Linked DNA regions of Homo sapiens: all the other regions are linked to region 1. Evidence: fine-mapped expression QTL. A gene starts in region 1. Each other region holds a variant in brackets. All regions are shown on one strand. Distances are from middle to middle. Region 1 holds the start of KCNJ11 (potassium inwardly rectifying channel subfamily J member 11). Region 2 overlaps ABCC8 (ATP binding cassette subfamily C member 8). Region 3 overlaps USH1C (USH1 protein network component harmonin).

The links. PIP is the estimated chance that this variant, and not a neighbour inherited with it, causes the effect.
Region 2: its variant is the best candidate, but not a certain one, in a credible set for the expression of KCNJ11 in putamen (Braineac2, PIP 0.50).
Region 3: its variant is the best candidate, but not a certain one, in a credible set for the expression of KCNJ11 in thyroid (GTEx, PIP 0.53).

What each region holds. Positions count from the first base shown.
Region 1 is chr11:17,387,313-17,390,068 of GRCh38, forward strand. It overlaps KCNJ11 (potassium inwardly rectifying channel subfamily J member 11), which reads right to left and starts at 1,347. Exons shown (of 1, transcript NM_000525.4): 1 at 1-1,347. The coding sequence starts at 779. RefSeq lists an enhancer at 1-529 and silencers at 1,738-2,247, 2,328-2,427.
Region 2 is chr11:17,427,282-17,430,037 of GRCh38, forward strand. It overlaps ABCC8 (ATP binding cassette subfamily C member 8), which reads right to left. Exons shown (of 39, transcript NM_000352.6): 13 at 1,284-1,389; 14 at 1,008-1,124; 15 at 586-661. Among named protein-coding and RNA genes, the nearest start is that of KCNJ11, 40 kb to the left of the region's middle. The variant C/T (reference allele first, on the strand shown) is at 1,101.
Region 3 is chr11:17,523,577-17,526,332 of GRCh38, forward strand. USH1C (USH1 protein network component harmonin) reads right to left here. Exons shown (of 27, transcript NM_153676.4): 9 at 875-959. Among named protein-coding and RNA genes, the nearest start is that of USH1C, 19 kb to the right of the region's middle. The variant T/C (reference allele first, on the strand shown) is at 1,255.

The DNA.
Region 1 (2,756 bases):
ACATGGTAGATGATCAGCGGGGCCACCAGGAAGATGCTGTTGCCACCCACGCCGTTCTCCATGGGGATGTCCACCTGGTGGAGGGGCACCACCTCGCCCTCGGGGCTGGTGGTCTTGCGTACCACCTGCATGTGGATGGTGGCGCTGATGATCATGCTCTTGCGGAGGTCACCCACACGTAGCATGAAGCAGAGGCGGCCGTGGCGCAGGGCGATCACCGCATGCTTGCTGAAGATGAGGGTCTCAGCCCTGCGGTGGGCTTGGGCAGTCTTCATGAAGATGCAGCCAAGCATGATGGCGTTGATCATGAGCCCCACGATGTTCTGCACGATGAGGATCAGGATGGCCAGTGGGCACTCCTCAGTCACCATGCGCCCCCCAAAGCCAATAGTCACTTGGACCTCAATGGAGAAAAGGAAGGCAGACGAGAAGGAGTGGATGCTGGTGACACAGGGCTCAGCAGTGCCCTCGCTGGGGGCCAGGTCACCGTGGGCGAAGGCGATGAGCCACCAGGCCATGGCGAAGAGCAGCCAGCTGCACAGGAAGGACATGGTGAAGATGAGCAATGTGTGTGGCCACTTGAGGTCCACCAGCGTGGTGAACACGTCCTGCAGGAAGCGGCCCTGCTCCCGGATGTTCTTGTGGGCCACGTTGCAGTTGCCTTTCTTGGACACAAAGCGGGCCCTCCGCTGGCGGGCACGGTACCTGGGCTTGGCAGGGTCCTCTGCCAGGCGTGTCAGCACGTATTCCTCGGGGATGATGCCCTTGCGGGACAGCATGGCTCCGGTGACCCCCAGGGAGGGGCTTCCCCCATCGGAGGCACCCCTCGGACGTGGCCTAGGGCCTCACTGCAGAGTCCTCTCGGTGGGCACCTTCTCACCCTGGGGCTGCACTCAGCCTGTGCTGGCCTCACTTCTGAGATAACTCCCCACCAGACTCTTCCTTACCTCCACCTGGGTCCCACTTCACTTCTTAATACCAGCCTCAGGCCGGGCGCGGTGGCTCACGCCTGTAATCCCAGTACGTTGGGAGGCTGAGGAGGGCAGATCACTAGGTCAGGAGTTCGAGACCAGCCTGACCAACATGGTGAAACCCCATCTCTACTAAAAATACAAAAGTTAGCCGGGCATGGTGGTGCGCACCTGTAATCCCAGCTACTCAGGAAGCTGAGGCAGGAGAATCGCTTGAACCCGAGAGGCGGAGGTTGCAGTGAGCCAAGATCACGCCACTGCACTCCAGCCTGGGCGACAGAGCGAGACTCCGTCTCAAAAACAAAAAACAAAACAAAAAAAACAGCCTCACCCTTGAGCCCACCTGCCTGGCGCCTAGGGAGCCCCCAACCCTGCCGGCTCTCCACCTGGCCCTGCGTCCTCCCCCAGCTTCCCCCACCAGCTGACCACCCCTGGGCCTCCCGCTAAGAGCCCTTCTCCCCGCCCAGCCTGCCTTCCCAGCCCAGCTCAGAACTTAACACCTCCGGATCTCTCCCACTAACCGGACCTCACCCCCACCTCCGGGTCTCCCGCCTCACCTGTCTGGCCTTCGGGCTCCCAGGCTCCAGCTCAGGTCCTGGCCACCCCCGCCCCGTCTCTCCTCCAGGTGCGCCCCCTATGTCCTACTCCACCCCTCCCGGAGCGCCCCCGCCGCTTTCCGGATCCCCCTCCAGCTCTCGTCCTCTCTGTCTCCTTGGGATCCTGCGTTCTCTGGAGTCACCACCCCACCCGGCTCAACCGCGGCTCCCCGGACCTGCGCGCGACCCGGCGGGGCTGACTCCGAGTCGCGGCCTCCCGGTCCCTGCCGCCCGCCCGCGCCGCGGCTCCCGCTCCGCGCCGGGTCCCGGCCCCGCCCGCCGCCGCCGCTGCACCTGCTCCTGCTCCTCACGCCACGGCCGTCGCCTCCCCGCCCCCTCCCGCCGCCCGGGCGCTCGCGGCTGGCCGTCCTCCCGTCTGTCTGTCCGTCCGTGGGTCCGCGGAGACCGACCTGGGCTAGGCAGGGGTCTAGGACGGCGGGAGGGGGGCGCACGAGGAGAGGAACGGGGCCGGGGACCGCCAGGGGGAGCCCGACCTGCACCGGAGCGCAGGGGGCGGGGCCGGAGCAAGCCCCCGCCCCTCCCGCGCCCCTCCCCGCCCCCGCCCTCCACCTCCCCTCCCGGGACTCACAACCCGGCCTTTGGAGTTTTTCTGATCCGCGGAACCCAGAGGTTCCTCCTGCCCACGCTCTACGAAAGTGGGGGGCTGGGAGGGATCTGTGACCCGCCCTCCCAGTCTGGGGCCGCCGCCCTGTCGCCCTGGCTCCCCTCCCCCAATATCCCCATCCGTATTTGGGTCAGTAATCCGCCTCTCGGCCGCGCCAGGTTTGCAGGTTCCCCGGGAAAGGAGGCGCTGAGAGGCGGCGCCACCAATCCCAGGGCTGGCGGAAATTAGGCGGTCCGAGGACTTCTCAACCTGCAGCTGCTTCTCTTTGGGGGATGCTCTTAATCTTAGTCTTGAATCCTTTGACAATCTGATGGAAGCTCAGACTCCCTCTCATTAAAAAAAAAAAAAAAAAAAAAAAAAAAAAAGGCCTCGGCAGGAAAGGAGCACAGTTTAACACCTGCTACTGCTGTGGGGCAGCCTGGGCGGCTCCATCTTCTCAGCCATTCCGGCCCTACTTTAAAGAAGGTTTGAGCCGAGGCCACTTGCTTTACACTTTCTCACACCTGTCACCTGACTTCTTCCACGTTAGGTCATGGGTGGTATTTAGGCCTGAACAGTGTGTTA
Region 2 (2,756 bases), 40 kb after region 1:
CCCAGCAAGTCCTCTCCCTCTTTAATCCTTTCCTTCTGGAAATCAACATCCTCCTCTGGCTCCCCAGGTCCTTCCCCCTCTCTGATTTCCTGCCCCGCCACCCTTCCTAAGCACTCGCTTCTCCTTTCCCATGCTCCTAGTATGAGCCCAGGCTCCTTGTGGTCCCAAGAAACACCATCCTGGGTCCCACCTCCAACCCACCTCCATACTTTGCTCATGGCTGCCTCTGCCAGAAAATCCTCCTGCCTCATGGCCTCAGGGCCTTTGTCCATTCTCAGAAACCCCATCACTTCCACTTGCGTTCCTTGGCTACCCACTTCTGATCTTTTTGTGCATTACCTATACTGTCTGCAATGGATGGTTTGACATTAAGGCTGGCAATTTTACCCTGTCCTTAGTGCTTCACTCCCACCCAGCACACGGAAGCCTCTAGAATGTAGCCTTCCCCTTCTATAATATACCCAGGGCATACACCAAGAATGAGCAGAGAGTAGGTGCTCAATAAATGCAGCTTTGTCTTTTTATCTCTATGTTATTCAGTGGGACATGGGGAGGGGCATGCTGGAGGGGTGGACTGGGCCATACCTCGGGGGATACGAATGGTGATGTTGGACAGTGTGGGGATTCCATCTGGGGTCCACGTGAAGTAGCCTCCCATGATCTTCATTAGGCGTGTCCCACCGCCCAGGAGAGAACAGAAAGGCAGCCAGTTCCCAGTGAATAGTCTCTGGCTTCCCCTCCTCCATGAAAGCCAAAAGACACTGATTCCAGCCCCTGGATCACTTCCAGAGCAGGGGAGTGGGAGACTGGCCTTCTCATGCTGACCCTTGCCTAAGGCTGGGGGTCCCCCCACTTGGTGGTCCCTGGTTTCTGGACTCCTATGGACCGTACAGGCAGGCAGGGTGACCTCTGCAGAGGACTAAGCATGCAGCTTTCTGGCTTTCCAGGTGCTGAGCTCCCTCTGGGAGTTGGTGCTGGGTGGCCAGGCATGGGGCAGCAGGACTCACCTGGACACAGCAGTTGTCAGCATCGCCATCTGCACTGGGGACCAGGCTCTGCAGTGGGCCGGTGAGGCCCCGACAATCCTCCCGGGCTGGACG[C/T]TTGCGGTTCACAACCCTGAGGGGCTGGGGGTGGTTTGGAGGTGAGGACCCACTGGGCTGGGAGCTGTGTAGGGAAGGGAGCCCCTCTTCCTGGGAAAAAAGGCAGAAGTCCGACACAGCAGGCCCAAGTTTTGGGCCTTAGAGGACCATGCTGGGAGTAGCAAGGGGAGGCCGGGCACTCACCACCGCCTGGTACTTGCTGGCTGGGCCCTGAGGTGTGGGCTCATGGGGGGCACACTGCTCCTCACGGATCTCTGCACTGGACAGGAACTCGCTTAGCTTTTGCACGCTGCTCGGGAAGCACAGAGACACCCCTCACCCCTGCCAGGGGCAGAGGGGAGGGGAGAGGGCGCAGCCTGATAGAGAGCTCTGAGCAGGATCTCAGGCCTGAAGTATAGTCCCACAAAGCCCACACTGAAGGGGGCAGACCAGTGGGCATGGGGGCAGGTAATTGGTGTTACCAGGGTTTGCTAGGGTTGACCAGTCAGCTGGAATAGGCTGGGGTCTGGATTGGAGGTGAGATTGGTTAGTTTTAGGGTTAATGTTGAAGTTAGTTAGTCTGGGTTATTAGACTGAAGGATGGTTGGTGTTGGATTGGTCAGGGTTAAGGTTAGTTAGGACTAGGATTGGTAAAGAATCAATAGCTAGTATTTTGTGAGCATACACTAAATGCCAGACACTGTGTTAACTGTTTTGTAGCATTATGTAATCGGATCCCCATAACAGCCTGCTGGAGGAGGTGTCATTACTCACGGGGGAGGCGGCTATTCCTACCCTCTCCCCTGTCCAGATTTCCCTGTGGACCTGAGGAAGCACTGGAAGCTTCACTCTTCTAGTTCATTCTCTCCCATCCTGGAGGTGTGAAAGCTTTCTGGGAAGCTCAGGATTGTTTGTATTCCCCTTTCTTCTCTTTTGCTAAATGTCCAACAGGCCTGGGGCAGACAAGCCATCCCACCCTCAAGGCAAGGTTATTCTGGGGTGTAAGTGAGCTGTGGCCTGGAGTCTCCCTTTCTGTGCGCCACCCCTAGATGGGAGGGGCAGACCACCAGGCTCTGCCTTCATGCCCTGTCCAGCCTCCCTCCCCCACAGGCGGTGACTGGGAAGAGTGGAGCTGGCCCTCATCTCTTGGGGTGAAGCTTCAGGTAGTGTCCTGCGCCCACCTTCAGCCAGAGCCTGAGCTGCCTCACTGAAAAGGCCTCTGCTACTCTGGTGTTCCATTCCTGGAAACAGTGGGATCCAGAGTGTTTGAAAATATGAACGCTTTGGGATCAGTGCAACAGTTTTCAGGCAGGTGCAGCGTTCTTAAATCTGTGGTTTCTACACAGAATCATAGGGCTGGAGAGTGGGTGGTGGGAGGAGGGGTGATCTTCAGACCCCACAACACCCTGGTCAAGAAACTGAGTCAGCACAGCCGACTGTGGAAATGGGAGCTAATCCCTGTTTAACCAGCTACTGCCTGGTCAGATACTCCTTAGAGCATAATTTTGCTGAGTTATGCCCCATTCCATCTTTGAACCCATGCTAGAGTCTCCCCCTGCAAGCTACCCTCTCTATCAGCTACTTCATTCCAACAGCTACTCCTTCCTTCCAGCTTCCCAGTACCTGCCAGGGTCCCATGAGACAGGGGTGTCACCTTCCTCAAGGCTGAAGACACAG
Region 3 (2,756 bases), 140 kb after region 1:
ATCTTCAAGTGGCAGTACCTCAGCTCCTCCTGATGAATGGAGCAGTTGGAAAGCTCTGGTGGAGCTCTGGGAGGGCTTAAAGCTGACCCTGGCACTCCCCTACTTCATAACTATCTTATCAACTATCAAATATTATACCATTACATGTTCATTTCTTTGGCTAAATTTGATGACATTTGCTTTAAAAATCACAGTTTGCAGATGCGGGAACCTTTGAGCTTCTCATTTAGCACAGGCTGTGTTGAATCGTCATAACAGAATAGCTAACATTCACTGATCACTTACAATGTGCTTGGCACAGCTCTAGTATACATATTAATTACTTTAACCCACACAACAACCTTGGAAGAAAGCCTGTATTATCCCCATCTTACAGGTAAGCAAACAGACATGAAGTAACTTGTCCAAAGAAGAGGTTAAGGGTTCCTGCTTTGGGATTGGACCACCTAGGTTTGAATCCCAGCCCTACCATATGAGGTACACGATTTTGGAAAAATCATATACTTTCTCTGGGTCTCAGTTTCCTCATATGTAAAGTGGGGATAATGGTGGTACTTAACCCTCAGCATTCTTGTGAAGTGTAAAGGGCATGGAACAATGTCTGATGCAAGTGGACACTGAAGGTCCGCTCTTTGATTACCATTACGACATTCCCAAGCTCGTGACCAACAACTATCAGAGCTGGGGAAGGCTGCAGAAGGGTCAAACATCCCCAGTCTGTGAAGCCTTCTCTGCAGGGTGGGTAGGGCTCCTACTCCCTCAGTGTCCACTGAAAGAGGGCCATGTGGAAAGGCACCTGCCCCTGTCACCGCGGGATCACAGTCTGACCCAATTTCCAGTGGGCCCCCACTGGGGCCGGCCCAGCGTCACTCACCTCCAATCCCACCTCAGCAGACAGGGAGCCAGGTTTCACATGGCTGATAAAGATGCCAGGCTTCTGGATGGGGCCGCTGGAAATGCTGCGGGAGGTGGGAAATGTGTGCTCGGGATTCAGGTAACCCATGTCCAGTGCTCAGGATACAGGTCACTCATGAGCTGAGGACTGAAGGCCCTTGACTGCCTACCTCTTCAGCCTCTGTGTCCCTCTCCAGCCTGATTTCTACTGCTACCCTGGGCAACAGCCACAGAAAAATCCTTGTAATTCTTCCTACCCAACCTCTCACCTAATATACCTCATATGCTGTTTCTTCTTTCTTTCTAGCACTTTCCTGTCCATCCATTAAGACTCAAATGCTATCCCTTCTATAAGGTTTT[T/C]ACCAGATCCTCTTATTTTTTTAAATTTATTTTTTAGAGACAGGGTCTTGCTCTGTCACCCAGGTTGGAGTGCAGTGGTGTGATCATAGCTCTCTGCAACCTCCAACTCCTGGGATCAAGCAATCTTCCCACCTCAGCCTAGCTGCGACTACAGGTGTGCACCACCATGCCTGGCTCAGATCCCTTATTCTATCCCAAGACTAAACTAGCCGCTCTGTTCTCAGTGCTCCTATGACATTTACGGCAAGGATGGTACATGTACTGTTAGTATTCCTTCCTAGATTGGTGGCAGAAGTCACTCATTGATCACAGCACTCTTTCCCACAATCCTGGATACAGCTTTAGAATGCTTTTCAAAGCAGCACTCCAGGGAGCTGCTACTCATTGACTAGAGATGGCACCTATTTGCCATCCTGGACGCAGAATGTAGTCCCGTTCGAGTCCCTATCACCCTATATTATAACTATTTACTTGGTTGGCTTCTAGATTAGGCTGTTGTCTCCCAGAAAGGTGGGACTTTTTATCACTTGTGCTTGGCACAAAACATTGAATAAATGTGAATGAAAGGAAAGAACAGGGATAACTTAAATAATAATAGCTAATATTTACCAACTGCTTACTATTTAGCAGGTACTAAGTTTGGCACTTTACTTTCTCCACAACCACCCTGTGATGTGGGAATTATTATCGCCCATTTATAGAGGGAGAAACTGAGGCTCAAAGTGGTTAAGTAACTGGCCCAAGGTTCCAGAGCTCTTAAGTGGGAAAGCAGGGCTGGAACTGGGATCTGAGTAACGGTGGCACCTGCATGCTTAAGCCCCGTGTGGCCCAGTGTCTGTTCGGAATTCCCTGTCTGCCTCTTAAGGAAGCCAACAAGTTAATAAGTGACAAGAGAGCTGTGACAGAGATGACCAGCCAAACAGGCTCCTTTTGCAGTGACTCAAGGGCCCACAAGGTAACACTGTTCTGCCTCTGGGCCTCAATTTCCTCATCTGTAAATTGGGCTCTGTTAGAGATGACCCTCTGGCCCTAAAGGCCTGTCATGAAGTTCAGAGGGGAAATCAGGCACCAAGAAGTGTCAACACCAAGGCTGGGTGCGGTGCTTCATGCCTCTAATCCCAGGGCTTTGGGAGGCTGAGGTGGGAGGATCACTTGAGCCCAGGAGTTTGAGACCAGCCTGGGCAACATAACAAAACTCCATCTCTACAAAAAAATTAAAAGTTAGCTGGGTATGGCAGTGTGTTCCTGTAGATCCAGCTACTCAGGAGGCTGAGGTGGGAGGATTGCTTGAGCTGGGGAGGTTGAGGCTACAGTGAGCTATGATCATGCCACTGCACTCCAGCCTGGGCAACAGAGTCAGACCCTGTATCTAACAAAAAAAGTATCATCACCCATGGACAGTCACACCCCTGGTGGGCAAGGTTTCCTCGGAAGTGGCAGTGAGGAAGGGGAGGGCAATAGGGGCCTGCTGGGGTGCACTGGCCACGAATGACCCCAGGGCA